5 separate regions of the Homo sapiens genome follow, and regions 2, 3, 4 and 5 are each linked to region 1. The links come from fine-mapping of genetic effects on gene expression. A gene starts in region 1. Each other region holds a variant in brackets. All regions are shown on one strand. Distances are between the middles of the regions. Region 1 holds the start of TMEM170B (transmembrane protein 170B). Region 2 overlaps LOC105374928 (a long non-coding RNA gene). Region 3 overlaps TMEM170B (transmembrane protein 170B). Region 4 has its middle 74 kb from the start of TMEM170B. Region 5 overlaps LOC105374928 (a long non-coding RNA gene).

Region 1 (6,647 bases):
GCTCTGTATGGTTTTATCAAGGGTCTCCACTTTTGCGTCTTCCTCATTCTCTCGTTGCCTGCTGCCACCCATGTAAGACGGGACTTGCTCCTCCTTGCCTTCCACCATGATTGTGAGGCTTCCCCAGTCACATGGAACTGTAAGTCCAATTAAACCTCTTCCTTTATAAATTGCCCAGTTTTGGGTATGTCTTTATCTGCAGCGTGAAAATGGACTAATACGTTAAGTTGATACCAGTAGAGTGGGGTGCTTCTGAAAAGATACCTGAAAATGTTTTTCTCAAAAGATCAATATCATTTTATATTTTAATTGATTTTAAAAAGCTTTCCTCTAGGTTGTCTCTGGACAGTTTTAAAAATGACTAAGGCTAATGGGTGTTCCCTCACTTACATGAGAGAAATAAACCAGGAATTTTGGTTTATGAATTACGTTTGTGAATTGTTTCATGCTGAAGGGCACAGAGTTGAAAGGAAATTTTTGGATTCACTTGGGGTGGTCCCTGATTTCTGACAGGAACGTGACTAAACTCTTCCTGAATTGGTGTATTAATTCAAAATAAAAAATCTGTAGGAAAGAAATTCCAAAACTTTCATTTGTATTAACTCAGTTTTGGGTTTCATAACTCTGGCTGTTGGGAAAATGTCTAATTCTCTTAAGGATATAAGCTTCCAACACAGTCAAGATCATTACTTTTATCAAGGAAAACCTAAGTAGCCTAGAGAGTAGAGATCTTATCTTCAAATGTTACAGATAACACCTTGCACAGAACATTACAGATAGTAGATGCCAAATAAATATAGACGCCAATTAAATTGAACTGAACAGCAGGGGTGAAGTTGTTGGGCAGCAAATAACATTACTGACTTGAGACTTCATTGCTGTGTCTTTCTCATTTCCTGACATGAACACTTGGATTCTGTAAAAAATATTTATTCAGAACAAGAACAATGCTGACTTTTCTATGAAGATCATTCAGTGATTCATTCAACAAATATTTGTGGTGCAGGTGCCAGGCACTGTCCCAGGTTCTGAATATTTTCACTGCGTGCTACTGTGTTTTAAATAATAGTGTGCAATCCTAAGAACGTAAACTAACTAAAGGTTTCTGATATGAGAGTTTAATGAGCCCCTGCTCAGGGAGTTTGCTGTGAACCCTTCACTGAATGTGGTCACATTCCCTAACATCACTAATTATGTAATGCCAAGTCCCTTAAGAATATCATTAGGTAACCTGCACTTCCCCATCAAGAATCTTAAAGTGAGGGAGTTAACAGTGGGTTAAGAAAGATAATGTGGTTGCTAGAAAGAATAATAGACCAGGAATTCAGAAACTGAGCTGTGAAGTGCTGTCATCTCTGTCAAGTCACTTAATTCACAGAATCTGTTTCCCTATCTGTAAAATAAAATTAGAAAAATGTTAAAGCGCTCTTTTAGGTTTGATATTCTGTAATCTTGTTAATAGATCTAATTAAGTCTAAATTCTAGGAGGAAGATAAACTCTACATTAAGAGTTTTGGCTCAATTCCTATTAATGGTGCAAAAATTTCTCTTATGTTGTGACATCAAAAAGAAAATACAAATAAACAAAGAAATAAATGTGTATGTAAATATTATTTTAAAGTGGTCACCAAGAGCACCATTTGACAGGTAATTTGACCCTTCAGTGCTTTGTCAAATATACTTCATGATTTAGCTACAGCAGGTATTTCTTCACTTCTCTTTGTAAATTTTTCTTTATCCAGATGGCAGAGGGGTTGAAAAAAGGTGGGGGGAGGGGCTGGCTACTGCATATTTATGTTACTGCTAAAACTTAAATTTTTATTTTTTAAAGTTAGAAGGTTTCCAATTTCGAGGAGTTTAACTTGTAGTTGGATTTTAGATGCTCCTCTGGCTAACGCTGGACATGAAGACAGACAGCAAAGCGTGGGGAGAGAGATCTAGTTTAAGTTCGAGGGAAAAAAATAACAGACGCAACTTAGATAAAAGAATACTACCATCAAAAAAAGGGGGGCTAGAGCCGGCGATGGCCTTGAGGATTAGGACACCTGCCGAGCCTGGAGTAAACAGGTAATGTCAGGCAGGTCCTGGAACCCCGGGAGGCCCAAGTTCTTGCTGCGGGAAGAGGGATTAGCAGAATGATAACGCAGGTCTGTTTGTGTTTTAGGGGTTTTAACATGCATTCTGCAAGTAAGTGACCTATCCAGGTCATTCGATTCAGGCTCAGAAAAAAAACCCCGCAAATTAATATATCTAAATGCTGAGATAGTGACACCTTTTTAAAAAAGTTATACATAAGCATCTTTATCAAAAAGCATTACATTTTAAGGCAAAAATCTGAACTGTCACAGTATCCACCTCACCGAGTTCAGCAGCCCCACCTTGGGTCAGGGCTGCCCCTGCAGCGCGGGCCCCCGAAATGCCCGCACCGCCCACGCCGCCCGCACCGCGCGCACCCAGCCGGGCCAGGGCGAGGGATCCAGGTCTCCCGGTCTCTCAGGGCGCGCGCCCGGGGTCCGGGGGTGGGGGGCGTGGAGGCGGTTCCCTTGGAGCGCCCAATCAGCAGTAAGGCCCGGCGGTGGCGCCAGTGACGTAGACCGCGCTTCCCTCCGCCCCACTGCGGGCCGTCGCTCGGCGCCGTCAGCCACGCGCGCTGCAGCGCGAGGGGAGAGCGAGAAGGAGGGCTTTGGGGCCGACCGGCTGTTGGAGGGCGGCGGGTCGCGGGGAGCGGGGGAGTGAGCATGCGCAGCGGCTCCGGGGAGCGCAGGGGAGGAGGGGCCGGCGCTGAGAGGCGCGCGCGTGCGCGTGCACGAGTGGCCCGCCGGCGGCTGCGGGTGGAGGGGGCGGTTCCTCGAGTGTCGGCGACCCGAGGGCGGGCAGGCGGGCGGCAGGTGCCGCCGCAGCCTCTGGCTGGTCCCGCGTCTCCGTCCTCCGGCGGCGATGAGCTGGGCCCTGTCGGGGGCTGCACCTGCCGGCTGCCCATCAGCACCGGCCTCCTGGCGTGACCTCGGCCTCCTCGCGTGTCCAGTCCCCGCGGCGCGGCGCTGCCCCTGAGAGGGAGCGGCGGCGGCCTCCTCCGCCCCGAGTCCTCGCTCGGGGGCCGCGCGAGGACGGCGCCCGGCCCCCTCCCCTCCTTCCTCCGTCCGCCGTCCTCAATGTCTCCCCGGCGGGGAGGGGGCTGCCTGGGAGACACGCTGAGCGGCCCCCCCACGGAGGCCCTCCGGCTGCAGCAGCAGCAGCGCCCGGCCCGGCGTCCCGCAGCCTCCACCAGCGGCGGCGGCCTGGAGGAGCCGCGCACCCGCCGCCGCCCCCCGAGCCTCGCAGCCGCCGCCGCCGCCCGGCACCCGAGGAGAGGGCGGCGGGCGCCCCTCGGGGAAGATGAAGGCGGAGGGGGGCGACCACTCCATGATCAACCTGTCGGTGCAGCAGGTCCTGAGCCTCTGGGCCCACGGGACGGTGCTGAGGAACCTCACGGGTAATTGACGCGCCTGGGCTGGGGACGGGGATGCGGTCCGCCCCTCTCCTGTCTTCTCCTTCCTCGGGAGGGGACACGCTCCTCGCCGCCCCACCCCCGTGCGCGCCCCGCTCGGAGCTCCAGGTCCCGGCGAGGAAGGTGTTAATCGGAGCCACTCTGCGCGTGTCCCGGGGGCGCCGGCTCCCGCCACCCCCTTCCCTGAGTCGCCAGGGGAGCATCAGCGACCCCCGCTCCTGCCCCGCACGGGGAGAGCTCCCGGTGGCGGCCCGGCCTCTGTAGTACGCGCGGAGTAGCTTTAGTGCTGAGACTTGAGCGCATTTCGCTTTTATTCCATTACCCTCCTCCCCTCCCCCTTCTACACACATCGCTTCTTGCTATTTACATCTTTTTCTGATTTAGTTCTTTTTCTTTCTGGCAAATCTCAAGCCAAATGTAGAACCTAAAATCATTGCCCACAATGGTCGATTTACTTTTTCAACCGCTAATTTTTTGGGCGATGTAGATAACTGAGTAAATTATAGTGGGTCAGGGGCTGAGCTAAGGTCTAGTGCGGTCTAAGCGTGTTAGCTTCATATATCTCCTTCCCCTCCCATTTCCTTTTGTCTGTCTGTCTCTTTCCCTCAGGCCTCCAGCTGCTGCTTCTGAGACATTTGATAATTTTGTGTATTTCCCTTCATTTATTAAGGCTGTCAGTAATTGGCCTTATAACATCAATTTCTATTTGTAAAAGTGAGTGATAAAACACACAATATTTTTATTCAGTCTGTAGATTTGCTTTGTGAAGAAACTTCTGGTTTTGTTATGTGGAAATGCTTACATTATACTTTGAGTTCCGAATTTAAAAATTATTCTCTGAAGTAGAATTTACGAGAAAGAGATTCAGTTGCGATTTGGTGACTCCTCAGTGCCTGCTTTTCAGAGGAAAAAAATCTTAAAAAAATACTCAGAATTTAATTCTTGAAAATGTGTAAGGCAGTTAATTTCAGTAGAACATTAGTATTTCAAAATGCATTTTGTCAAACTGGTTAAAGTGTTGTGAGTATTTTACAAATATAACCTGGGTTCATATATATAACATATATATAAAGTCTGGCATGGTATAGAATACAAACATTCATAGAAGAAAATTTTATGGAATTATATACCACAAAAGACAACTTTAAGGACACTGGTTTCTTCGAATGGAAACTATACAGTTAAAGTAGATTCTGGATTGCTTCATGCTATCCTCACTTTTAAGCTGTGGTTATTTAACTTGAAACAGACTGACTTTACATGATGATTGCCGGTAAGGAATATATTGTTATAATTCTGGAAAACTAAATGGACATAAAGACCATCTCATGATTCAGTTGAATTTAGAGGTAGACTGCTTTATCTTACTTATGATTTTGCTTGCATTTATCCACTGTTTGGTATTTGAACTGTACCAGTTTTTGTTTAAGTGAAATGAAAAGTAGGGACTTAACATATATTTGTGCAGGCATACCTTGGAAAGATTGCAGGTTTGGTTCCAGAACACCACAATAAAGCAAATATTGCAATAAAGTGAGCCAAATGAATTTTTTGTTTTCCTAGTGCATGTAAAAGTTACATTTTACCTGTAGTCTTTAAATGTGAAATAGCATTATGTCTGAAAAAAAAGTACAGACGTTAATTTAAAAATACTTTATTGCTGAAAAATTGCTAACGATCATCTGAGCCTTCAGCAAGGACGTTATCTTTTTTCTGGTAGAGGGTCTTGTCTTTGTGTTGATGACTGCTGACTGATCAAGGTGATGATTGCTGGAGATTGGGATGATGGCAGTTTTCTTAAAACAGCAATGAAGTTTGCCACTAAGGAAGAGCAATAGACTCTTCCTTTCATGAAAGATTTCTCTGTAGCATGGGATGCTGTTGGGTAGCATTTTATCCACAGTAGAACTTTCAAAATTGGAGTCAGTCCTTTCAAACCCTGCTGCGGCTTTATCAACCGAGTTTATCTAATAGTCTAAATCCTTTGTTGTCATTTCCACGGTGTTCACATGATCTTCACCAGGAGTAGATTGCATCTCAAGAAACCACTTTCTTTGCTCATCCATAAGAAGCAACTCCTCATCCATTCAAACTTTATCATGAGATTGCAACAATTCAGTCACATCTTCAGGCTCCACTTCTAATTCTAGTTCTCTTGCTATTTCGACCACACCTATGGTTACTTCCTCCACTAAAGTGTTGATCCCCTCAAAGTCATCCATGAGGAATGGAGTCAATTGCTTTCCAACTCCTATGAAAGTTGATATTTGGACCTCTTCTCATGAGTCACGATTGTTCTTAAGGGCATCTGGAATGGTGACTCCTTTCCAGAAGGTTTTCAATTTCCTTTGCCCAGGTCCATCAGAGGAATCACTATCTCTGGCAGTTTTAGCCTTCTTACACAGTGTATTTCTTAAATAATAAGACTAGAAAGTCAAAATTACTCTTTGATCCATGGTCTGCAGAATGGATGTTGTGTTAGCAGTCATGAAAACAACATTGATCTACTTGGACATCTCCATCACAGCTCTTGGTTGACCAGGTACATTGTCATTGAAGAAAATACTCATTAAAATGAAAGGAATCTTTTTTTTTTCTGAGCAGTTCTCAACAGTGGGCTTCACATATTCAGTAGGCCGTGCTGTAAACTGATGTACTGTCATCCAGGCTTTTTTGTTTCATTTATAGAGCACAGCCAGGGTAGATTTAGCATAATTCTCAAGGGCGCCAGAATGGTAAATGAGCATTGGCTTTAATATAAAGTCACCAGCTGCATTAGCTCCTAAGAAGAGTCAGCCTGTCCTTTGAAGCTTGGAAGTCAGGGATTGACTTCTCTCTAGCTGTGCAAGTCCTAAATGGCATCTTCTTCTGATATAAGGCTGTTTAATCTACATGGAATATCTGTTGTTTGGGGTAGCCACCTTCATCAGTTAGCTAGATCTTCTGGATAATTTGTGCTTCTACATCAGCATTTGCTGCTTCACCTTGCACTTTTATGTTATAGAGGTGTCTTTTGTTAAACCTAAAGAACTGACATCTGCTAGTATCAAACTTTCTTTTGCAGCTTTCTCACATCCCAGCCTGCATGGAATTGAAGAGAGTTGGGGTCTTTCTCTGGGTTAGGCTTTGGCTTAGGGGAGTGTTGTAGCTGGTTTCATCT
Region 2 (6,647 bases), 31 kb before region 1:
AAGTTTTAGAAGTAAATATTCTACCAGCATACACTACATGGCTACTACTTTTGCTTTAGTCATTCCATTATCTTTCAGGGCAATTATCAACTTAAAAATGTCTTTGATATTTACCTTCCTTTTCAGCATTTCTGTAATCTTCATTTCTTTGTGTACAACTAAGTTTCTAGGATCTTATTCCTCCTGCTAAAGTACTTATTTAATTTTTCATCTTGCACAGATCTGCTGATGTTAATTCTTTCATCTTTCGTTTGTTCAAAACAATATTTATTTGACTTTATTTTAAAAGATATAGAATTCTTGCTGATTCAAGCAATGGATAAAAAATATAGAATTCTGAGATGCTAGTTTTTTTTTCTTTCAATGCTTTAAAGATGTCACTCTTGTCTTCTGGGTTGCATAAATTCTAATGAGACATCTACTATAATTCTTATTTGGGTTGCCCTCAAGATTTTCTTTTGACTCTTGGTTTCCAGCAGTTTGAATTTTATTTGTCTAGTTAGATTTTTTTCCTTACATATGCTGCAAGGGGTCCCATGCATTTCTTGGATATGTATTTTGATGTTTTCCATTATTTTTATTTTTTCAAATATTTCATCTGATCAGTTTTTTTCTTTTTTATTCTGTTTGTATGGCATCTAACATCTCTTCATCTCATGCTTTGACTCAGGTATGACAGTGCTTGCATCCTAATAAGGGCCTTTCTTTAAATTTCAGTCTTCTTGGTTGTGCTGCAACCTTTGTTCTCTGATGGAAAAAAGTGTTATAATTGTACTGTTTATCTGGAGCTTTCTTGTTATGGTAGATGTTATGTTTTCTTTCCAGTTTTCCTATACACCGATAATATCCAAGCTGAAAGCCAAATAAAAAACACAGTTCTATTCACAGTAGCCACAAAAAAGTAAAGTAAAATGCCTAGCAATACAGTTAGCCAGGGAGGTGAAAGATTTCTACAATTAGAACTACAAAGCACTGCTCTAAGAAATCAGAAATGATACAAACAAATGGAAAAACATTCCATAATCACGGATAGGAAGAATCAATATTGTTAAAATGGCTATACTGCCCAAAGCAATTTATAGATTCAATGCTATTTTTATCAAATTACCAATGATATTCTTCACAGAACTAGAAACAACTATTTTAAATTTCATATGGAACCAAAAAAGAGCTCGAATAGCCATGGCAATCCTAAGCAAAAAGAACAAAGCTGGAGGCATCAAGTTACCTGACTTCAAACTATACTACAAGGCTACAGTAACCAAAACAGCATGGTACTGGTACAAAAACAGACACACAGACGAACACAACAGAATTGAGAGTCCAGAAATAATGCTACAGACCAACAACCATCTGATCTTTGATAAAGTTGACAAAAACAATGGAGAAATAACTCCCTATTCAACAAATGGTGCTGGGATAACTGGCTAGCCATATGCAGAAGATTGAAACTGGACTCCTTCCTTACACCATATATAAAAATTAACTCAAGATGGATTAAAGACTTAAATGTAAAACCCCAAACCATAAAAACCCTGGAAGATAATCTAGCAACTACCATGGTGGACATAGAACCTGGCAAAGATTTCATGACAAAGACACCAAAAGCAAGTGTGACAAAATAAAAAATGGACACATGGGACCAAATTAAACTAAAGAGCTTCTGCACAGCAAAAGAAACTATCAACAGAGCAAACAGACAACCTACAGAGTGGGAGAAAGTATTTGTAAACTATGCATACAACAAAGGTCTAATATCCAGAATCTGTAAGGAACTTAAACAAATCAACAAGCAAAAAACAAATCCCATTAAAAAGTGGGCAAAGGACAGAATAGACACTCTCAGAAGATACACATGTAGTCAACAAGCATATGAAAAAATGTTCAACATAACTAGTCATTACAGAAAGGTAAATCAAAACCAGGATGAGATGCCATCTCACACCAGTCAGAATGGCTATTAATAAAAAGTAAAAAAATAACCGATGCTGATGAAGTTATGGAGAAAAGGGAATGTTTATACACTGCTGGTGGGAAGGTAAATTAGTTCAGCCATTATGGAAAGCAGTTTGGCAATTTCTCAAATAACTCAAAGCAGAACTACCATTCAACTCAGTAATCCCATTATTAGGCATATACCCAAAGGAATATAAATGATTATACCATAAAGACACATGCACATGTATGTTCACTGCAGCACTATTCACAATAGCAAAGACATGGAATCAACCTAAATGCCCATCAACAGTAGACTGGATAAAGAAAATATGATACATATACACCATGAAATACTACACAGACACAAAAAAACAACAAGAACATGTCCTTTACAGCAATATGGATGGAGCTGGAGGCCATTATCCTACATAAGCTAACACAAGATCAGAAAACAGATACTGCATATTCTCACTTTTAAGTGGGAGCCGAACATTGAGTACATATGAACACAAAGAAGGGAACAACAGACATTGGGGCCTCCTTGAGGGTGGAGGGAGGGAGAAGCGTGAGGATAAAAAAACTATCAGGTACTATGCTTATTACCTGGGTGGTGAAATAATCTGTACACCTAACCCCCCTGACATGAAATTTACCTATATAAAAACCTGCACATGTACCCCAAACCTAAAACCAAAGTTAAAAAAATAAAAATTAAGATTAAAGTTTTACTATGAAAAACCATAAGTTTACACGGATATTTCCAATTGCAATCAAACATTACAGAGTACATTTCCTTTTACCCATGTCCACATGCATTTCCCTTCTCAACAGTGGGAAACCTGACTCTCATCCTCTTATTATCATAGATATGTTATATATATTATACATATATTGTGTATATTAAATTATAAAATATTACTATAATAAATGCATTTTATTAAGTCTAGAATACAGAGAATGTTTCTGAATTGCCAGCCCATACCCTTGTGAAAAGCAAACCTGCTATCGTTCAATATCTCTTCATATTTTTAAAGATAAAATTTACATAACTGAAGTGCATAAATCGTAAGTGTTCAATTTAATGGCCTTTAAAAATTTACATAATTATAATATTACATACTTACATACTTATAATATTACAAATTTACATACTTATAATATTACAAATTTAACCTCTTGTTTGAAGACTGCTTTGGATAAGCTCCCCATGCAACTTTAACATCTCTTTATTACAAAACTTATTGCAATGATTTCTCTGTAGAGTCATCCATTCTTTAGAGAAGTCCACTGTGTTCACTAGAATATTAACTCATTAAAGAAAGGGACTATGCCTTTTCAGTTTGGGGTCTCTACTTTTGGACAGTATCTGGTATACAACAAGGTACCAATGAATGTTTGCTACATAAGTAAAGTTCCATTGGAACAAATACCCTGCAGCTTTAAATAGGGGAGCTGTGTAATTTTAAATCTAAGATCTGCTTACTACTAAATCATCAGCTAAGGGAGATTCTACTAAATCACCAGCCAAGGGTGTTACGACAAGAATTGTCAGAGCATGAAAGGAAAAAGAAGGCAGCAGTTGAAATGCTAATAAATCATTAGGTTCCTATAACTCTTTACAGAGACATAAAGCTGCTCTAATCACTTATCAACTAGCCTTTGAAATTGGTGGGTGGCACAAATTATTTCCACTATATTTATATATTAAGACTTCAGTCTTAGCAAGATATTTCAAAGTAAGTATAGGTTATCTGTCCAAAACTTAATGGAGAAGAACATTTTTGTAGTTCTTGGTTGATATTCTGACATCTAAGATTATTATTTTCAGTTGTCTAAAAGCAGAGGGTAATCAAATCTGTTGACAGGTATTACTTTTATAGCACTAACTATCTTGGCAAAGAGAGAGGTTACATGTACTGAAATATGATTACACAGTTGTTTTGGAGTCGTGTCTGGAGATGTTCTGTTTTTCTTTAAATAACAATAACGAAGAATATTATATTCTTATATATATAATTTCATCAAATACTTGTTTCAAATGTCTGTAAGAAACTACCACAGAGCAGTTTTATAAAAAGAGCCCTGGAGAGAAATTTTAAATTTCAATTAATTTAAA[A/C]CTGGATTCTGTCTCTGGATCATCCAGCTGCCAACTTGAAACCTTAGTCAAGTCATAATACTTTCAGCTAAAGGAAGACAATAAAGCTACTTCATAAGGTTGTTATGAAGGCTAAATAATATGTCATTAATAATAATAATATTAATAATAAAAATAGAGTGAATTATATGTATTGGGGACTTACCATATGCTAGACACTCCAAATTTTGTATTTAATTCTCACACAACCAAATGAGGTAGGCCTTATTATTACCCTTTTTGAATGATGAGAAAACTGGAGTTTAGAGAAATTAAGTGTATTGCTCAAGGTCACACACAGTAAAGTAGTATAGCAAGAATTCAAATCCAGGTCTCTCATACCAAAATACAATTGTAATTGCATTTCTTCCCAAATACATGTAAAGTGCCTAACAGAATGTCTGACATATATGAAATCATCACGATGTGCTAGTTCCTTTTGTTTCTTACTCTACATCCTCTAGCACATCTCAAACATGCTATCAAATTTAACAACCACCTAAAATATATTATGCCATCAAATCTGCATTGCCAACTCAAACCACCTTTCTCCAGTCTCAAGAACTATACATCCAGCTTCTTTAAGTGTCCAACAGGCATGCCAAATTCAAAATGGCCTCATGCAAACTTATCACTTTTCTCTTAAATGTGCTCCATTTATGATCCCCAAACAGTGAATATTACCATTTATTCAGATGCCTAAAATAGAAATATGAGAGTCAGGGCTTTTAAAAAATAGTTTTGTAATCTGATTTAAGTCTTCAATGCTTATTGACATGTTGTTTATATTTCCTAGGATGACTGATCAAATCTTTCTAATCATTAAAAATTCAGCTTACATATTATCTCCCCTTTGGATCTTTGTAATATCAGTTAAATAGTATCACCTCTGTTCAGCTGCCATACCTTGTATATAACTCTTTTTTGTTATCATACTATATTTTAGTGATAAATTTTCATATTTCTCTCTTCTCCTACACTAACACAGTACATCTGAACTTTTGGGATGATAGAAATGTTCTATATATGTGCTGTCTACTATGGTAGTCAATAGCTACATGTGGCTATATATTGAGCATTTGAAATGTGGCTAGTGGTATTAACGTAATACCTGTCTGTCAACACAGGAACTAACTTCTTAATTTTGTTTATTTTTGCTTAATGTAAAAATAATTTTAAAATAGCTACACATGGCTAGCAACTACCGTAATGCACAGTGTAGCACTTGATTTTGAGCTCGGTGAGGGCAAATACCATATCTTACTCACTTTTATCCTATGCCTAGAACATAGCAGATCCTCAAAAAATATATGGAGAATGAGTGAATGAATGAATAAATATTTTACAGTGGTAGAATAGAGAAAAATCTACTTATCATAAGCACCAGGGAACTATTACATAGAGGTACTGTGAAAACTAATAAGCACTGATTTCTTGGTGAATAAAAACTTAATGCAAATAAGTTTCTAAAATGAAATGGAGAAGTAATTTCTATCGGGTCAACCCACTCTCAGGTAACAAAAATAAGCTCCATACAAAATATAAAATATAATTGGATTAATCTAAAGGCACTCTAGAAGACATGAAAGAAATTGGAGGTAAACTTATACTTGAAAGAAGGAAATGGCCATGTAGTTTTCCTGTTTTGATACAACATTTTGCTGGAGGGTAGGCCCTAGTTGCAGCTTTCTTGGTGGGTAAAACTCCAGTAGAAATCCAGTCTTATTGGCTTGGAGAACCACAGGACAGATTTTGGAGGCCATGGCAGCTGGAGATTGAGGGGGAAACCCACAAAAGGTAAAAGCCATGGGTGGGGCGGGGCAAGGGGGATTCTATATATGAACATGGATAAAATCTCTGGCTGACCCCTGTACTACATATGCACAGGGATAACTCCAAATAGGCCTTATGAGTCTAAAATAACTGAATTGAGTTTTCAGCTGCTCCACTCCACAAAAAACAGGATTGGAGTTTGAATTAAAGTTAAATTAATTGCCTGCTTAAAAACAAAAACAAAGAAAACAAATTCCTCAAAGGGACATAACAGATTCCAGTGTCCCTACAACACATCATTCATAATATTCATGTGATCCACAATTACTAGATTTATGAAGAAACAGAGAAATGTGATCTCAAGACAAAAGGCAAATAAGTGAAGACTGACACTGCGATGACCCAGAGGTTGGAATTAGCACATAGGGATTTTAAAACAACTATTATAACCATTCCAAGGATTTAGAGAAAAACATGCTCACAATGAATGAAAGGAGAGAAAATTTTAGCAGAGGAATCAAAACTACAAAAGAGAAACAAATGAAAATCCAAAAAATTTTTTAAAACCTGTATTTAAAATTTGCAAGATAACTTTAACAGTAGATTAAAATGAGAAAGTCAATAAATTTGAAGATAGAGCAATAGAAAGTAGCTAACCTAAAAAAAACAAGAGAAAAGATTAGAAAAAAGTAGAGTCTCAGTGATCTGTGGAAACAATGTGGAAAGGTCTAGCATATGTGTAGTTGTAGTCTCAAAAGAGGAGAGAGAGCAAAAATATTTGAGAAAATAATTGGAAAATATT
Region 3 (6,647 bases), 43 kb after region 1:
AATAATTTAAAGCATTCGTATTCTTCCAGAGGAATTACCAATAGCATGTGGAAATTGTTTCAGATCTCCAGAATGAATACTTATTTTAACATATGTTTATTTTATGATTTAAGAAAGTTATGGTAAAGTAATATGGAGCATGATTCATAATCCAAAATTAACAAGAAAATAACTTGGATACATTAAATGTACTAATGTGTGGACCAAAGAGATTTAAACTATTGTTTTTACTCTAGAATGAAAGTATAATTGAACGGTTAATAATTAGTTTGTAGAGTGTCCTGCAGTTATTATCAAGTTGCTTTACATTATCAATTGTGTGTGTATGTGTATACTTTTAATTTTAGGGGTTATTTTTGGTTTCTTTGCTGTTTTCAGTTATTTCCATTGAGATTTTGTGCAACTGTCTCTCTTTTGATGTTTTGAGATGCAGTTGAATAGTTTGAGTTTGTGAATTGTCTTAATAGCTATTTATATGCTGAAATTTTTAAAAAGTTAGTAGCTTTCCTATAGACACAAGAAATGTTTAATGATATATATACACACACGTATATATCATTATATAGGTATATAGAGAGCTGCTATATATGAATACAGTCTACTTGGAAAGCTTTTTTTCAGTGAACACTTTCATGTTCTAGTGGAAAATTTGTTCAGTGTAATGATCTTTTAAATAGGTTTGAGGATGTTTGAAAATTTTGAATTTTGGGAAAATTTTCTTCACTTAATAGAGCTGGAGACCCTTGTTTGGGACATGACAAAAGTCCTTATTGATGTATTTGGGTTATATACTTTGTTAAAATTCGTATGTGATTTAGCAGTACATTTTCTTCGTGACAAATGCAAGAAGGGAGGGAGGATCCTCTATAGTGGACACTCCTTTATTTAAAAAATGTTTAATAAAATATTGTTTATAGTGAAATCAGCTCCCCAAAGAAGGAACTCCTACATGCCCAAACTAATTACAGTTGAACATACTGATTAAAAATGCCATAGATCACAGCTAGTCAGGAGGCCTCAAATAAACTGCAAATAATGCTTAAAACTTTAAAAGAAGGAGAACCAGCAGTCTTCCGAACCATGGGACAGTTCCAAGGTAATAGCCTACCTTGCCTAGGATAAGTGAAGTCCTAAATGATGGCTATCTTCAGGGCCTGGAGCAGAATTATTCTTTAGATCTTAATGTTTACCAAACAGTGTTACAGTTTGTTACCCAATATACTTTCTTAGTATTTGCAGCATACATTTCACTGCTCAAAAAAGTATAAGGGTTTTGTTTGTACTTTAAATGAGAGAAATAAAGAAATGAGTTGGCCTGTATATCTTGTATTTGTGATATGAGCAACGGGATAATTTGAAATCACAGAATGTTGTGGGAAAGGTCTTTAAAGAACCTCTAATGAAGAAAATGTGGCTGCCACATTGATGTACCTAGGCTGCCACTCATACAGCAAATAATTCTATTTTGTAAACACTTCGTGTGGATCCACTATGTAAAGTGCTCTACCAAGTATTTTCTCTAGTAAGAAGTACAAGAATTACCAAGATGGAATTCTTTACCTTGAGTACACCAAGAGCTAGCAAGATGATTTTTAAATCCTAAAAAGTTTGGGACAACATTTTGCTTCCTGATTTTAGTTGAGAGTTAGCCTGTTATCCCTCCAAATTCTCATTTTCCTGGTTCATCCACTAAATAGAATTTCCATAACTGAGATATCATGGCTGTGACATAGTGAAGAGAATACGAGACTCCAAGCCAGCAACACAGATTGAATTAAGACTCTGTCACTTGTCAACTTTTTGACCTTGAGCAAATCACTTAACTTCTCTGAGCCTCAGTTCATACTCCGTAAAATGTGACTAATACCTCATGTAGTTATTGTGAGGATTACGTGAGATTGTTTATGAATGGCAAAGCAGTATGTATTTCACAGTAAATGATCAACTGATAGTCTCTAGAATTTTTTTAAATTACATTTTGCAATTGCATTACCAATTGAATATGTTGTTTTGTAAAATTCATCAATTTTGTTTCATTTCTATATTTTCCTTACATATGCTTTAGGAAAGAAACTAAAAACGTTTTCTTATAATCTTGCTTCATCTCCTTTTCACTTTTTCTTTTTAAAATCAGCAGATCTTTAAGAACCTTTTGTGAATTGGTGGTGGTGGAAATGGCCAGTGCAAGCAGGATTAAATTAGGAGTTCTGTTGACCACTGGTTAAAATAGGAAAAGGGTAGAGAGGTAGTCAGCCTTGACTCCCTTATCTATTCCCACTTACTTCCCTTGGATTCATTCAGCCATGTTGATTTATTGACTTTCTGCTATTTGCTAATTATTCTTCTTGAAAAGTAAGAGCGATATATAACCCTTCAGTCTTCTATATGTCTGTTTCTTCTGCCGGCCCTGGGCCCTTGGCTCTACAGTGTAGTGCCAATTCTGTAGAAAAATAGAACGATATTCAGTGTCTACCAAGTTCTTTCTTCCACAGGCCAAGGGTGCTTAAGCCCTAGCTGTTATTTTGTTTCTTTTATTTATTTATTTTTTGAGACGGAGTTTCGCTCTTGTTGCCCAGGCTGCAGTGCAATGGCATGATCTCAGCTCACCGCAACCTCTGCCTCCCAGGTTCAAGCGATTCTCCTTCCTCAGCCTCCCGAGTAGCTGGGATTACAGGCGTGCACCACCATGCCTGGCCAGTTTTGTATTTTTAGTAGAGACAGATTTCTCTATGTTGGTCAGGCTGGTCTCAAACTCCCGACCTCAAGGGATCCACCCACCTTGGCCTCCCAAAGTGCTGGGATTACAGGTGTAAGCTGCCGTGCCCAGCCTATTTTTTTTTAACTTCAAATACTATTATTTTAAATTTATGTTCATTATGTAATTCAGGGAGTAACGATGCCTGGAGCAATTTCTGAAATATTCTCAAACCACTTCACTCTTGACACTACAGATTTTTCTCTCAGTCTCAATCAGAATCTCTGCAGTCATTATTTGTTTTTAAGATGTGAGGGACGAGGAAAATTACTGAAGAAATTCTAGCAGATTTCGATTGCAGAGAAATTTGGTAACACTTTTTGGGTAACTGGGTAAATTACTATTTCTTTTAATAATCGGGTGAAACTCTGAATTGTTAAAACGGACCAATAATCAAATGGTTTTATAATCTTTCTTAACTTCCCGTCCTTGTTATAACATCTTGGAAGAAGACTCTTCAGGATAAAAAGGATATTATTTGATTAAAAATTATAGCATTTGGAGAGGTAACACACAAAAACAAAAACATATTTGACAAAGCGCCCTACATCCTGTGTTTTGTTAGGACTAGAAACTATACTGGATGAGTATGTATACTGCATGTTTACACATGCTGTGTTTCTTTATATGTGAGGCTTCACTGACCACCGTGCATTTTGAAATTGTATTGCATTTTGTGTGTGTGTGTGGTGACAGGTTTGCTCTTCTCACTTAAGGAGCTCTGGTCTGTGTAGGCAGTACAGTGTTGTTAGGGAGGTTGCTGAATTATCTAAAAATGTATCCATGAATTTGGGGGAAATAATGCTTAATATCTGAAGTATTTTCAGTAAATGTGGAGATATATCAGATAATACTTTTAAATTAGTGGAAACACATTTCTGAGTGAACTGAGCTATGAACTATAATCATCTCTTCCCCTGAGTTTAGGGAAGTTGTTTTCACATTCTTTACATTTATTGCACATATACTGAACTTACATAATAACTCTTCCCTGATTTTGAGAACGAATTTAGCAATTTCCTAAAAATCTTCCTCCTCTTTCCATACAGATGTCGTATGTTATAGTTTAAACATATGTACAATTTGTTGATAGAATCCAAGGAGCTGGTTTAGGAAAGAATACTCTTAACCCCTACAGTTATGCAGCTCTAATCTTACTGAAAAGTAAATACTTTAGGCAAGTCAGGAGAGCATGAACCTCATACATACATTTTTACGATTATGTACTGCACCCACATGTATCTACTCTTGGTAGTAACATGACTCCACCCTTTTTGGGAATGTATTTAGGTGGATAACTGAAACGGAAAAGCAGTTTGACACAAATACACAGAAAGAGGAATTGCGGTGCATAATCAATCGTCTGAGTCCCATAACTGTAACACTTTTTCTCTTATAAATTGGTAGTTCCTAAAAATCAC[C/G]ACTTTAAAAATTTTATTCTGTCTTGCTGAATTAAGCAGAAATCACTTTTTTTAGAGCCTTGTTTAAAGGAACGTTAACTCGAGAGTACTACTGATGATGACGCTTCTCTTGTTTTTAAAGTATTTACACATCATTGTTAAGTATTTTTGGAATGGAACATTTTAAAGTTTTCTCCATAGAAAGCAACATAGTGGCACTTGTTGAGTAAATGATCATAAAAATGACTTGCTTTTAATAGCAGATGAGTTGATAGTTTAACTGTTGACACTTTCTTAATGTTTTTGATGTTGGATGCATTTACAATGGAAGAATTTTTTTGAAAGATTTGGCCCTCTCACCAATACACACATTCAGACTTGAGCTGCACGCATTTAGATGAACAAATAGGAAATTCACGGTATTTTTTGTTTTAGCCATCCAAAATTCATAGGATTCTACCAAAAATATTAGCCCCTGACTCTAGTTATTCTGAGATGAGGGAATCAACTTTATCTTGAAAGTTAACTAGCTAAAATGTCTTTATTTAAATAGCAAAAATATAGTTTACCTGACAAGTATTAAAAGTCTCACTTTCAAATTGTGTTAACTCTCAGACCACTGATGAATCTTTTGGTAAATCACAGGCAGATTTTAAAAGCTAAATGAAGCCTTAGTGCCTTGAAAGTTAAGATACTTGTGCAAAATGGATTTAGCAAGATTCAGGATTGGCACCAGTGAGTTGGCTAGATACACATCACCAGTGACTGGGAATTCAAAGTTTAGAAAGCCTAACGAATAGTAGCTACTAACTTCATATGGTTCAATGTAAATCAGTTACTTAGTCATTGACTGTGACAGATGACAGCTACTTTCACTATATTTTCATGATGTGGTATTTTTCTCTATTTTTTCTTTTTCCAAGTATGAAATGGAAAAAAATGTAGTTAAGAAAATTAAGTGTGAGACTTTAAAATTTAGTTTTGTTGTAAACTAGAGATTCTAGTGAACAGTGTTAGTTTTATACTGTAGTACAGGGCACACACTTTAACCTTTAGAAATATGTTTACCATCAGGGATTTATTTTTACTATAGAAATACTAAATGTACTGTGAAGCTTAAAGACAGGAGAATAAATGTTGGAGGGGTAATACACAAAAACAAAGGCATATTTGATGAAGTACCCTGTGTTATGTGAACACAATTTCCCCTTCTGTTAAGACTATAAACTATATGAGTATGTGTACTGCATGTTTACATAAAACAGTTTAATTTTGAAGGATTATTTTAAAAACTATGTTTATATATAATACCTAACAAGCTGTAAATATTGTATATTATTGATTTTTAATTTTATATAAGCAATTTTTTATTTCCCAATTCATGTACAAATCTCATTATGTATATAGCATAATTTCCTGGAGAACACAAATTTTGCAGTGAATTTTAAGTAATTTTAATTGCAGTAAGCATCAGTTTAGCCTAGAGATGTTGATCTTTATTTTAAATTATTTTTCACCATTCTCATTTTCTTCAAAGGGCAGCAATAAACATATGCAAGTTATTTTTAATTATAGAAAGTAGGTCTACAAAGATAAGATCTAGGTTCCAATTCATTGCTTTAAGGAAAAGATGCACAATTACTATCATTCAGTGTCTAATCACAGGACCATTTCTGAGGTCCACATGTGGCTCTCCTCTTTGTAATATACAGGGTGAACTCTTTACTGATACACACAAGACAACTGTTAAAAAGTGAATCCAGCACTTAAATGTCATTACACAGAATTTATTGGATTAAAAATTTGTAATATACAGTATTTTAATAAAGTTTCTGTATTCAATTTCATGCACTTATATATAAATAAACCTGTCTTTGAAAGCTTTATGGGGTGTTTGACTCTTGGTGATAAATCTTTTCAATTCATTCACTATGGACTCAAATGTCTTCTCTTGCCTTTTTGTCAATTTTTCTGGCCCTGTTTTACCTACAGATTTAGGAGTTAGTGCTTAAAAGCTGAGAGGCGACCAGCTTGGCCAACGTGGTGAAACCCGTCTCTACTAAAATACAAAAAAATTAGCTGGACGCTGTGGTGTGTGGCTGTAGTCCCAGCTACTTGGGAGGCTGAGCCTGGGAAATCACGGGAGGCGGAGGTTTCAGTGAGCCAAAAACGTGCCACTGCACTCCAGCCTGGGCGACAGAGTGAGACTCTGTCTCAGAAAAAAAAAAAAAAAAAAAGGTGTGAGGCATAAAGTCTGGTTAATAGACTTGCCTAGGATCAATCCTGGGCCACATAGCATCTACTTCTGAGTTACCGTTTAAAGAAACATGCTATCAATTTTATTAATAAGGAGCTACCATTTGTTGAGTGCTTCTTATCTGTTAAAGACACTTCCTATGTATTCTTTAACACTTAAGGTAACCCTTCAAGTGATATGTTTTATCGCCGTTTTATAGATGAAGCATTTGAAGTTAAGAGAAGGTAGGAATCTG
Region 4 (6,647 bases), 74 kb after region 1:
GAATATTATTTCATAATTATGTAAATTATTATGTATACATTATATATGTGTACAGAATATTATTTCATAATTATGCAAATTATGTATACATTATATATGTGTACACACACATATAATCATACTATTATACATACACAGTTATGTGCTGCTTAACAATGAGGATCTCTTCTGAGAAATGCTTCATTAGGTTATTTCATCGTTGTGTGACCATCAGAGTTACACAAACCGAGGTGGCATAGCCCACTACACACTTACACTATACGGTAGACCCTATCATTCCTAGGCTGCAAACCTGGACCCCATGGTACTGTACTGAATACTATAAACCACTGGGATGCAATGGTAAGTATCTGTGTAGCTAAACATACAAAAGTACAGTAAAAATACTATCATCTTACAGGACCACCATTGTATATGCATCTGCCTTTGACTGAAGTGTCATTGTGTAGCAAGTGAATGTATATTACAATTTAAACAATACATGCCCTCAAGGAATTTTGATATCTCTTTCAAGTCATGTAGATATATAGCACATTTCCAGCTCCCCGAATAGTTTTTTTGCTTATTCAGGAATAATTTTCTAACCTGACCAATTTACATCTTTTGATCCCGTAAACCATAGAAGCTTCTCCCTGTTTTCGGCCCCATCCTGCTGACCTGTCTTAAAGCTAGTCCATGCTGGCTTTCAGCCTTCAACTGCCACTGGGAGTGACAAGGGTTCTGGAAGGCTGGGCTGGCGTGGCAAGGGGAGACTCCCCTGAAAGGAAGAATGTCCCCAGGGAGTGCGGCGTGGCCAGCACATCTTCTCACACTTTATTCCTGCTCTGAAACCCAAGTCAGAACTTCAGTTTCTGGTTTCTTTGAAAGTACTTGGTGAACAAATAAGCAAATAGGGGATAAGGAATGTCCAGTCATTGTTTGAGGATTTTCTGGAATTTGGAGCATTGTTATTTTAGTTGTTTAGAAAAGGCTTTGGTTGCCTGTTTATCATACAGTGCAGGCTCATGAATAACTTCCTGGGGGACTGGCCCACATTCTTGGTCCGGTTGGCGTCTCTTGCCCAGCAAGGCTCATGCCGGGCGTCTTCCCAACATCCTGTCTGGGAATGACCTTCTTTTCTCTGCTTACTAAGCTCCGAGAGTCCTTATTGAAATGACCTCCTGCACAGGAAGGCCTGCTGTGGCGCCTGGCAAGAGAAAACAGCCCTGGTTTCTAGGAAGTCCCACAAATACACGCACACACACACACACTCTGGAAGTCTTGTTAGGAAGAGGTGACATGTTTATGTTCTTCCACGCGTCTGATAAGGAAAACCAGCAGACATTCCAGAATGTACAAAACACGGGTGAGGACAGGTGCAAGGACCACAGCTGGAAACCAGCGAACACAACAAACCGCAGCTGTCTGGGCCATGCCACGCTGGTGTGGGCCAGAGGGGAAACCAAGGGCGTGCGTGTGTCTATGTGTGTCTGCAGATGCACTCAGGCTTAAAAATTAGAAGCCTGCAAAGCCCCCTGCATTTAAGAGAAAAAAAAATAATCATGGAATTTTTCTGGCCATCTAGAAAAAATTTTGCTCTTGCCAAAAATATTCAAAAGCTATCAGGATTTTTTTTTAACTTATCTAAATGATATTAGTGAGTGCAGGGGAATCCCAAACAAAGGGACAGTTGTGTTCTTTAAATTCACTCTTGGTTTTAAACGAGACCTGCTTGAACATAATAAAGAACTTCAAGAAGCCCTCTCACCTTGGTTGAATGATAAAGTGTTTAGAAATAATACCTTCATGATTATCATGTACAAGACATTCATCTTATAAGGACTCTGATGACTAGAGAGTTCAGTGCCTTGCCTCTGGTTGTAATGCAGAAGCGTGATTCCCACTTAGGGGTGTTCAACATGCCATGGCCTCCCTTTCTCTGTGATCAAAGTTAGCATCACAGTTGAGTGACCTACCCAGGGCCCTGAACTCACAAGCATCTCATATCCGGTTTAACATTCTGCTGTTGCCATGGTAAAATCTTTAATAAGGATTAATAAATTATTAATCCTTAATGAATCCTTAATACCTTTGAACTCGGATCTTGCAGGTGTACTCCAACATGAAAACGGAGCATGCATGTGAGCTGAGTAGTGACATGCAACATGCATGTCCATTGATCCTTGCTGCTCATTCACATACAGTGTTCGCGATGCCCCCTGGACACAGAATTCCAGTGGACCCACCACGTGTGGGGATTCAGGGGAGACTCAAAGCAAATACAAGGTAAGCATGGACAACCAAGGAAGGTGAGGTGAGGAAGGAGGAGGGACACTGACAGCTCCAAGAGGGCACATTTTCCATTTGAAGCAGAACTTGCTTTGACACAAGAAAGAAGGCAATGGCATTCTATTAATAACAAATACTAACGACCAACGGACCCTATTCTGTTCTTTCTTACTCATGCACTTCCCTGAATTAACCATATACTTCCTCTGAAAATGAAGACATAGACCAAAAGGAAAAAAGGGCAGCTGAGCGTTAAGATTTGATAGAGTTTGTGCATATCAAGAAGTAAAATAAAAGGCTGGGTGTGGTGGCTCACGCCTGTAATCCCAGCACTTTGGGAGGCCAAGGTAGGCAGGTCACCTGAGATCAGGAGTTCGAGACTAGCCTGACCAACATAGTGAAACCCCGTCTCTACTAAAAATACAAAAATTAGCCAGGTGTGGTGGTGCACACCTGTAACCCCAGCTACTCGGAAGGCTGAGGCAGGAGAATCACTTGAACCCGGGAGGCGGACGGTGCAGTGAGCCAAGACTGCGCCACTGCACTCCAGCCTGGGTGACAGACTGAGACTCCATCTCAAAAAAAATAAAATAAAATAAATAAATAAATAAATAAAAAGAGTTGAGTTAGTTTTGTGCAGTATTTCCACTGTTCTGGCAAGAAA[AAAAAT/A]ATATATTCATGTATAAGCTGAAAAATATGAATTACATAATTCCAGTGATTCTGCAGATGAGTTAAATACTCTCATATTTGCATTTATTTATTTATTTATTTTTAATTTTTTTATCTTTTTTTGAGATGAAGTCTTGCACTGTCACCCAGGCTGCAGTACAGTGGCACGATCTCAGCTCACTGCAACCTCCGCCTCTGGGGTTCCAGTGATTCTCGTGCTTCAGCCTTCAGAGTGAGTAGCTTGGGATTATAGGCACACGCCACCACGCCTGGCTAATTTTTGTATTTTTAGTAGAGATGGGGGTTTCACCATGTTGCACAGGATGGTCTCAAACTCCTGACCTCAGGTGATCCACCTGCCTCGGCTTTCCAAAGTGCTGGGATTACAGGTGTTGGCCATCGCACCTGGCCCATATTTGCATTTAAAACTGACATTGTACAATGTAAAGATGAACCATAAAATTCATGCTAATAATTTAAAATTTTAATTTTTCTTGACTTAGAACAACACTAAACAGCAGATTTTTTTTTTTAACATCATGATAAATTGAGACACTGCAGAAGGAAGGAAAAAAGCTTTATTTTATAGTACCTTTGACAATAGTTTCTTCCCCCACTTTTAAACAGTTTTCATTTGCACTGGGTCTCATGAATACAGAGCTTGCTGTGCTGGTGATAAATAGAAATTTTGGCAGAAACACATCACATGGTCGTTAGGCTTAATCTTGGAGATTTGTGTAGCTTATGTCTACTAGTGCTCACATCACCTCTACTTAGGATTTCATTTTAGCAATTGTCTTTTTTTGGATTCCCCCAGAAGCATACCAAGATGAGAATTAAAGTGGGGACGTGGTGGCCCTGACAAGAGAAACCTGTGTAAAGGGCTTACTGGAGAATACAGAGGGTGTGGGAATGATGAAGTAGTCAGGTTATTCAAGGGAGCTGAAGGGGCCACTGAAAAATGTTTCATGAGAAATGTGTGTACTTTCCTCAGCAGAGGCTATGCCGCCTGCCCTTCCCCTCCCTTTCTCCATCGTTTCTGGATGCTAGGACTTCAGAATTTGTTTAGGAGGAGACACACATTTGTGATGGAAATCACAGTGTTATGGCTGAATTATGTCCCTCAAAATTAATATGTTGAAGTCCAAACCCTCAGGAGTCCAAACTCTCAAGAGTGTGACTGTATTTGGAGATAGGGACTTTATAGAAGTAATGAAGTTAAAAAGTAAAGTCATGAGGGTGGGCACTAATTCAATATAACTGGTGTCCTTCTATGAAGATGAGATGAGGACATAGACGTGCACAGAGGGAAGATCATAGGAGCGCACAGGGGAAGATGCCATCTGCAAACCAAGGAGAGAGGCCTCAGGAGAAACCAACCCTGCTCACACCTGGATCTCGAACTTCTGGGCTCCAGGGCTGTGAAAGAACACATTTCTATTGTTTAAGCCCCGCAGTCTGTGGTACTTTGTTATGGAAGCCCTAGCAAATGAACACACGTGGTTAGAAAAAAAATCCATCAGGAAACATGAAACAGAGTTCCTTGCTAAAATGACCTTGGAAGACATGATGAGAGATCAGAATGCTAGGGCAAGAACAGGAGATGAGTCTACAAACCTGGGGCAAAACTGGAAGAGTTCTGAGGGCCAGCTCTGCCACGTAGTGGATTTGTGGTCTTGGGTAAGGTACTTAATCTCTTGGTGCCTACATATTGTCGACTGTAAAATGAGCTTCAAATACAGTATACATGATAGAGATGCCATCAGAATTAAATGAGATAATGCTTGCAAAATGCTCAATATGTTAGCTCATCTTGTTTTTCTGTAGGAAGTAAGAACTCCTTAAGGACTAGCATCATGTTTTCTTCTGCTTTGGAAGTAAACTGGAAGCATGTCTTGAGTGTTAGCCTTTCACTTCAAGGAAACAAATCTGTGTGGAAGTTGAAGTCTAGTTGGGGAAAACCAGATACACAAAGGAAGTGATGAAGCTAGAATGTGCAGTTCATCAGTGGATGCTTACCACTTACCAGAAACTGTGTCATACACCTGATTTCATACCCATCTCATTTTAATCCTCTACAAAGTTATGAGATGGATGTCTTTGCCTCATTTTCAAAGATGTGAAAACAATTGGCTAGAGTGGTTAAAGGATTTTTCCAGAGCCTGCTGCCAGTAATTTACGGAGCAGGAATCAAACCTAGGTGTGTGGGTATCAAATTCATTTATGCCATGACTATTAAAATAAAACTTCCTTTCAAATTATCTTCCTAATTACCCTGCAAGGCAGGTGAGGACCTATTGCTAGCACCATTTTATATATTAGGAAAATATGACCCAGGAAATCCTGAACCATCCAAGTACGTACCCAATGTTAAGTGTAAAGCCAACTCAGTTCCAGTGAGGTTTTCTGGCTCGTAATCTGGTGATATTTAGCTACTTAGATACTGTTTAGATATTCAGATTCTCAGTGAGTGACTCACAAGATTATGTCTGCGAACTGTGGCTAGATTTCATTTTGAAGGAAGTTTTGGAATGCCACTTTTCCTGTATAGGATGGGAAACCCATTGATGTCAGCCACGATCCCAGGGCAGCTGGAGTGCTGTGGGCCCAGCATGGGCTTGGGGGTCAGAAGACAGAATTTTTGCTCTGGTTCTGCCACAAATTGGCTGAGTGACTTTGAACACTTCATTCTTCTTGGCCATGAGTTTCTCATCTGCAATTTGGAGAGACTGTACCGAATAATTTCCAAAATCTGTTAAAAATCTGATTCTATGAAATGGAATCTCCGGTTGGGCCTAAGAAACTAGTAAGAAGCCCAGAGACGTATGGAGGTAGAGATTGCCCTCTGTTAGTCTCAGCAAGAAGGAAATCACCTTCCCCACAAAAAAAAAACCATTTTATAGCTGAAATTGCAGAGAAGCAGTGGCACAGGCAACATTGGTGGGTGGGGGAAAAGTCCTTATTAAAATCTTGGTTACAGGAATAAGTCTACTGGGGACTTAAAGAAATCCCATTTGCACTCCAAGGATCAGCAAGTACAAATCCTACAAGAACTCTCTGGCCATAGAACAGAGAGTCCTAGAACAAAGCCTGTTTTGATCCTTTGTCTTGGTTAAGGGTGACACCATATCTCCAGCATAAACGACGACGATTGCATTGTTCGCATGCCGGTAATAGAAAAGGAAAACACAACCAGGCTGTTTGGTTAGTTTTGGCATGCACAGTTCAGGGTGGGAAATGCCCTTGGGTTCTGGCTGACCACCTGTTATTTAATTTTTTAATAAGTGTGCCAGCTTCAAAATACCAGAGACTCTCCTTGAAGGGTAATCACAAAGAATTGAATGTCCTGGTATTTGGAACAAGCATTCTATCTAGCTTATTGGCATCATAGCCCTTACTGTAATATCAGCGATAACAGCAGTAACCGCAACAAGAGCCCATGTCAGGTCCCTGGGGATCTCCCAAAGAAAACCTTTCCATTTATAGCAAAAAACAGTAAAGAAGCAGGGATCTGAGGGGGAAACATAGATAGTTTGTTCCCGTGGTAGCACTTCCCTCGGTATTCTAGTGCGGGATTAGTGGGCTTCAAAGTGGAACTGCCTCCAGCCTCAGTGGGCCTAGGACCATGCCCATCAGTTATCCACTCTGGTTTTGGAGGTCACTGTGTGATCTTGGGCTGACCTTGGAAGCTTCTGACTTACCGGCCTGAG
Region 5 (6,647 bases), 48 kb before region 1:
GTGGGTCTGTAGTACCCCAGGAGTTCAAGGCTGCAGTGAGCTATGATCACACCACTGCACTCCAGCCTGGGTGTCAGAGCAAGACTCTGGTTTGTTTGTTTGTTTATTTGTTTGTTAAAGCTATTCTGTAGGGCAGAGGGCACTATTCCAGAGTCTGTGAGTAAACCTAAAATTTCTGTACTTTCTCAAAAATGAGACCATTGCACCTATGGCCATTAGAGAATCTTTTGAAAGAGGCTTGCCCTATGAGAATTTTCTAGGATTACTTTTTGAAGGGCATCAAGACTTTCGCCTCACTGTCTTCAGGACTATCCCATGCCTTGGCTATGTTCTTTCAGATGCAAAAGACAGATGTTGTGTTCTGTTTTTTTCATAAGGATGCAAGAGAAGATAAGGAAGACAAGATCTCAACCACTTTCAGCAAAGCTTTGCGGAGAATGCAACATCCTTCAAGACACCATGAAGCTCCACGCATCTGGTCATCTTGTTTCTTCAGGGAATAAATTTATTGTTCTCTGCTTCAGGTGACTGGAGGAGACAAAGTGATCCCCCATTTATGTCTCTGCCTCTACCTTCCCTGCTGCTACCTGCAACTCTCTGGTGTCTTTGGGGGGTTCCAACTCCTTGACGGGGAGGGCGAGTTCCCTGGGCAATTGGCCATCAGTGCACCCTGCCTCTATTGGGAAGAGCTCTTCTACCAGGCTGTTCCATTCTCACAAGTAAGCCTAAAAGAGATGGCTCCCTCAGTGGTTTACCTCTGGTCCTATCAATCTGATGATGAGGCCACTTAGTTCTAAGTAAAGTGACAGATGACCAAGGACTTTCTTTGAAGAGACATTGGGTTGGCCAGGCGCGGTGGCTCTTGCTTGTAATCCCAGCACTTTGGGAGGCCGAGGTGGGCAGATAACCTGAGGTCGGGAGTTTGAGACCAGCCTGGCCAACATGGAGAGACCCTCTCTCTACTAAAAGTACAAAATTAGCTGGATGTGGTGGCACATGCCTGTAATCCCAGCTACTCAGGGGGCTGAGGCAGGAGAATTGCTTGAACCTGGGAGGCGGAGGTTGCAGTGAGCCGAGATTGCACCACTGCACTCCAGCCTGGGCAACAAGAGAGAAACTGTCTCAAAAAAAAAGAAAAAAGAAAAGACATTGGGTGTTCTTGATACTTTAAGATTTCACAGACGAAGAAAATGCAAGTCAGCAAGCAGGTTGCTGAGTATTCCCAGGGTATTCCATCCTTTTCTTCCATTTACCAAAGAGCTAAAGAGTAGTTTATATTCATTGCCTTCACTTTTGCATCTTCACTTTTTTTATACTTCATTTGTTTACCATATCCCTGAAATCCTAGCAGTCTGACATCTGAGAGCCTACCTTCTTTCCCTTAACTCTAACTGAAATTAACTCCCAACTTTAATATCCATTTGTCTTTCTCTCCCCCAACTTGCTGCTGTGTTTAAAACTATTGATTGACAACCCTACTTGTAAAGGCCCCTACCTTGGCTCCTATGACTGCATTATCCTGGGGGTGGGCAGGAAACCCTAGGGAAAGCCTTTCATCAATGAACCTGGATGTGAGTCCTGATTTTTCTCAATACTATCTATGTCACACTGTGTATGTTAATTTTGTTCAATAAGCTTTATTCTTGTTCACCTCGTATATTTGTGACGATTGAGTAATGGGGAAGAATATATTTGTGATGACTGAGTAATGGGGAAGAATTTTGGATAACACCAGGGTTTGGGCTTAGGTGAATAAGAGAATAAATGTGCAGATATTCAAGGCTTACTTCTTATACGTAATTAGTTGCTAAGAGAGATTAACTTCACTTCTATCACGTCTCCCAGATTTATTCCTCCTCTTCATTTTTATTACCTTGGTAGAACTCTTCACCACCTTTGACTTGGCCTAGTGGTTAATGAGCTGAGTTCTGAGCAGCTTTTGGGATTTCCAGGGAGATTCCTCAAGGACTTCTCCTCATTTTAGCAAGGTTAGCTCCACTTTCATCTGTTTTATTTATGTGTTTGTTTTTTTATTTGAAGAAAATATTTTCATTTTCAACTTTAATAAGAAACGACACTTACCCAGTTATTGATTCTGCCTCATCATCGGTCTCTATCTTCAGATCACCTCCCATATGATCTTAGAGTCAGTTCTCTGATTACTTATCCTGAAGCATATTTCTGATCCTGTCATATTGCATTGCCCGGAAATCTACTGTCCAAAATAGCAGTCCTTGGCCATTTGACTACTTAAGTTCGTTAAAATTAAATTAAATTAAATTAAATTAAAAATTCAGTTTCTTAGTGGCACTAGCCATATTTCAAATGCTTAATAGCCACCTGTATCTAGTGGCCTCCATTTTGAACAACTCATTGTTAGAACAGTTCCATCATTCTGGAAATTTGTATTGGATAGAGCTGTGCTAGATAGCTTGATAAACATTTCTGACCTTGGCATTAGGATTTAAAATCTATCTTTACCTGGCTCCTCTGCTGCTGTTTTCCTTTATAAAATGCTTCTGTAAGACTGAACTGTTTTCAAACATGCCATACTCAATTCCTGCTGTCATGCCTCCACTTACCCAACCCCACT[C/CA]AGAGTGTCTTTTGCTCCATCACTGAACACCCAAATCCTACTCCCCATTTAAGGACTGTCCTCCAAGAAGTCTTTTCTAATTTCCGAACTCAAAGTAATTTACTCTTCCTGTGAACTCTTACAGGATTTTAAATAAAGCACTCTAATGTCATCTACCTCATTTCTTCTAGAATTATAACTATCTATACATGTATTTTAGCCCTTTAATTAGTCGGGGTTCCTCTGAAAGCTGATTCTGAGACAAGGATTCAAATCTGAGTAGTTTAGCTGAGAGGTGATCCCAGTAATCATCAGTGGAGGAGGGGGTTAGTAAAAGTGGGAGGCAAAGAAAATCAATTAAGGATGAATTATCAGTTCAGTTACTGATATGGAGGACTAGACCTCAATCCCACTGGAGGCAATGTGGAACAAAGTTATCCCAGCCAAGGTCAGGGAGGCTCCAATGTGTATTCACCAATGCCTTGCCCATTATTTATTTGAGGGATTCCAGGGAAAATCATTCTTGAGCATTTCCATTTTGTCCTGCATTCAGGGCAGGCACACTTGGCCAGTAAAGAAAATCCCCCCAGCAGAGAATTGCAGATACTCACAGCAAGAAGCCTTTCTTGTGAATGGAGGATGGATGTGGAGCTGGTCCGAGCAGTCTGCCTACTGCATCTGCTATGACACCCAGCAAACTGGAAGGTAGGTCCTGGAGGGCTGAGGTCACATGAGTCATAGATGTGTGTCTCCCTCAGTGACCTAACACCGGCAATCAGCAAAGAGTTGTTCAGCGAATGAATGCGTTATCCCGAAGATATTAGGTACTGGAGAAGAATTTGTCATGGAACCCAGTGGTTTGGATGGGTCAATTCACTTGCTGTCAACTGAGATAATCTCTGAATAGACAGACCTACGCCTAGGGTTTTCTGTTGGCTTTGATGTTCAGTACTTATGGACTAAACATTGTACAAGTGTGGGAATTTGTTGAACCAGACTGTAAAGGAGTTTTGAGATTGCTTCAGAAGCAAAGGAGCTTATATCTAGAGAGGAATACTCGGGAACATCGACTGCAGCACTTGCCTTGGTTAGATGCCTGATGATGCTGTTGTCACAGCCACCAAGGGAACCAGGTTTTTTCATTGCAGCCGGGCTTCAATACAGTCAGCCCTCTATGCCTGTCAGGAGAGGTGGCGGTGCAGTGTAAGACTTGGGAATCTAGGAAGAAAGGGTGTGTGTGTGTCTATGTGCGTGCATAGCATGTGTGTATGTGTGTGTAGCGTATATGCTATGTATGTGGTATGTGTGTGTATGTGTTTGTATGATGCATGTGCTGTGTGCTGTGTATGTTGTGTGTGGTACGTATGTGGTGTGTATATGTGTATTTATGTGTGTGATGTGTATAGAGTCGTGTGTGTGATGTGTATGTGTATGGTGTGTGCGGTGCATATGTGATATGTGCATGTGTGTGTGATGTATGTAGGGTCGTGTGTATGTGTTGTGTGTGTATGATGTGTTGTGTGTGTGCTGTGTATGTGGTTGTGTGTGTGGGTATATATGGTATGTGTATGTATGCATAGGTTTGTGATGTGTGTAGGGTTGTGTATGTATATGGTGTGTGTGTGATGTGTATATGTATATTTGTGTGATGTGTGTAGGGTTTTGTGTGTGTGGTGTGTATATGTGTGTGGTGTGTATATGTATGTGTCTTTCTGTCCTCCAACTTGCTGCTGCATTAGGGTTGTGTGTGTATGGTGTGTTAGGGTGGTGTGTGTATGATGTGTGTGGTGTGTATGTGGTTGTGTGGTGTATATGTGGTGTGTATATGTGTGTGTATATTGGGTTGTGTGGTGTGTGTGGTATGTTTGTGTGAGTGTGTGTGGAGTGTGTGCATGTGATGTGTATTGGGTTGTGTGTGTGGTGTGTGTGTGTGGAGTGTGTGTATGTGATATGTATCGGGTTGTGTGTGTGGTATGTTTGAGTGTGTGTGTGTGGAGTGTGTGCATGTGTGTATCGGGTTGTGTGTGTGGTGTGTGTGGTATGTTTGAGTGTGTGTGTGTGTGTGGAGTGTGTGCATGTGTGTATCGGGTTGTGTGTGTGGTGTGTGCACACGTGTGTGCTGAGAGTCATTGAGGGTACGCATTGCAGCCCTACAGGGCTGCAGAGGACCGAATGCCTGCCTGCACCATGTTGACCCTGATAGCAAGGCTGCTACAATATCGCCTTCCTCATGCCCGTGGCCTACTTTGCTCCCAACTCTCACAGACAAGGAGCCACACATTAAAAGCCTATGTTAAGCAGTCATGTGTCCCAAGAGAAGGGGAACATTGCAGTAAGAAATTCTGGTGAACGATAGAAAGCCAGGTGAGATGAACCTGGGGTACAGGGTCCTGGTCACCTAGCTAACTCAGTTTTCAAGGAGGAACCTGGTTGGAGACTCAGGTAGAAGAGGAAGCTCAGAACAAGTTTCAAACTGGAAGACCAGACAGTGGTTGCAAGTAGAGTCCCTCGAGGCTGAATCACAGCTCACAGTGTATAATTTTTAGAATACTCATCTTCCAGTCCCAGCTTGACACTGACTTGGGGAAGTTACATAGCCTCTTTCAGGCCCCTGCATCCTCATCTTTTAAGACAAAGATGGTGAAAGTCTCTGTTGTCAGGATTAGAGGATTGCTTTTAGCAGAAATTCCCCATGGAGAGCAACTATTATTATGGATGCTGGATCCTGATGGATACCTCGGGGATATCCCATCCCAGTTAAATCTGTAGTAAGGGTTCAGGATGTAACATGGCAGCCAGGAACTGGGGTCATTGCACGGTCATCAAACTCTGAGTTTCACAGTAGATTTGTAGGTTTAGGTTTAAAGTTGCTTACGCAATCCCAGGTTGGTTTGGGAACTAGTGTGGGCTGAGCCTACTGGTGTGGGGAGCTGTAGCCGCAGGGTTAGGGAGAGAAAGGCAGTGTAGAGAGAGATTACGTGGGTGTAGGATTGGGGCCTCATAGACATGCCTCAAAACATTGTGAAGTAAAACTGGGAATAGGGCAACACAAGTATAGGAAGAGAGAAAATGGCCTCTCCAGAATAACTTGAGAGATAACTGCGACCACATCATCTCCAAATACTTCTCCATCCCACACTATAGAATTCCTGTCTGGAATTCCAACTGCTGGATCTCCGGGTTAGGCAACCAGGAAGAGAACATTTTCTACAGGTGGTGACGATTAAAATGCTTCTGTCACCAGAAGGCAGAGAGGCTCAGGGGGGCTGGGGGGGCTGCAATCCTTCGTTCTACTTCTTTTATCGGCACATTGTTCTTTAAAGATGTGGAGATGGTCCCTGTTGGGATAGCACGTGAAACACACTGGTTTCCTGGCTGTAAATAAAACCACTGGTGTTGTGTTTGACATAGCTGCTTTAGTACTTGGTCAGCAGTCCCATATGGTCTAGCAAACCTCTTAATTACAACTACAGAGGACAGATTCCTCTAGTAAACATCACCATGTTTAACTTTTCCTCCTCCTGCTGCTGTCAGTGCACAGAGCATTTGAACTTGTAAGCAGCAGGGGAGAAATACCAAATGTACACTCCCCTACCAGAGCTGAGCTTCTCACACCATTAGAGTTTGAAAGGGCCATTTGGGCAGGTTGCATGAAAAACTGGTAGACACCTGCTCCACTTTACCAAACCACAGTGAAGCAAAGTTTGGTTACTGTGTTTTTTTTTTTTTTTTTTTGAGACGGAGTCTCGCTCTGTCGCCCAGGCTGGAGTGCAACGGCACAATCTCGGCTCACTGCAGCCTCTGCCTCCCAGGTGCAAGTGGTTCTTCTCCTCAGCCTCCCGAGTAGCTCAGACTACAGGCGCATGCCACCACGCCTGGCTAATTTTTGTGTTAGTAGAGATGGGGTTTCACCATATTGACCAGGCTGGTCTTGAACTCCTGACATCAGGTGATCCACTGGCCTCGGCCTCCCAAAATGCTGGGATTACAGGCGTGAGCCACCGTGCCCGGCCAGTTTGATTACTGTTTTAAAGAGACGAGAGAACTAATGTGAGCAAAGGGGCCAGGTAAGGAA

Evidence for each region.
Region 2: its variant is fine-mapped to the expression of TMEM170B in whole blood (INTERVAL, PIP above 0.99).
Region 3: its variant is fine-mapped to the expression of TMEM170B in whole blood (INTERVAL, PIP above 0.99). The same link has a PIP of 0.9 or more in blood mononuclear cells.
Region 4: its variant is fine-mapped to the expression of TMEM170B in whole blood (INTERVAL, PIP above 0.99).
Region 5: its variant is fine-mapped to the expression of TMEM170B in whole blood (TOPMed, PIP above 0.99).

What each region holds. Positions count from the first base shown.
Region 1 is chr6:11,534,903-11,541,549 of GRCh38, forward strand. TMEM170B (transmembrane protein 170B) reads left to right here and starts at 2,847. Exons shown (of 3, transcript NM_001100829.3): 1 at 2,847-3,472. The coding sequence starts at 3,376. RefSeq lists silencers at 2,311-3,140, 3,171-3,330, 3,431-3,510, 3,521-3,800 and an enhancer at 3,140-3,641.
Region 2 is chr6:11,504,384-11,511,030 of GRCh38, forward strand. The region is part of intron 4 of LOC105374928 (a long non-coding RNA gene); the gene reads left to right. Among named protein-coding and RNA genes, the nearest start is that of TMEM170B, 30 kb to the right of the region's middle. The variant A/C (reference allele first, on the strand shown) is at 4,055.
Region 3 is chr6:11,577,484-11,584,130 of GRCh38, forward strand. It overlaps TMEM170B (transmembrane protein 170B), which reads left to right. Exons shown (of 3, transcript NM_001100829.3): 3 at 1-6,041. Among named protein-coding and RNA genes, the nearest start is that of TMEM170B, 43 kb to the left of the region's middle. The variant C/G (reference allele first, on the strand shown) is at 4,177.
Region 4 is chr6:11,608,604-11,615,250 of GRCh38, forward strand. No RefSeq gene overlaps it. Among named protein-coding and RNA genes, the nearest start is that of TMEM170B, 74 kb to the left of the region's middle. RefSeq lists an enhancer at 711-1,252. The variant AAAAAT/A (reference allele first, on the strand shown) is at 2,933.
Region 5 is chr6:11,487,188-11,493,834 of GRCh38, forward strand. LOC105374928 (a long non-coding RNA gene) reads left to right here. Exons shown (of 5, transcript NR_187824.1): 2 at 378-524; 3 at 3,126-3,277. Among named protein-coding and RNA genes, the nearest start is that of TMEM170B, 47 kb to the right of the region's middle. RefSeq lists an enhancer at 4,818-4,937. The variant C/CA (reference allele first, on the strand shown) is at 2,594.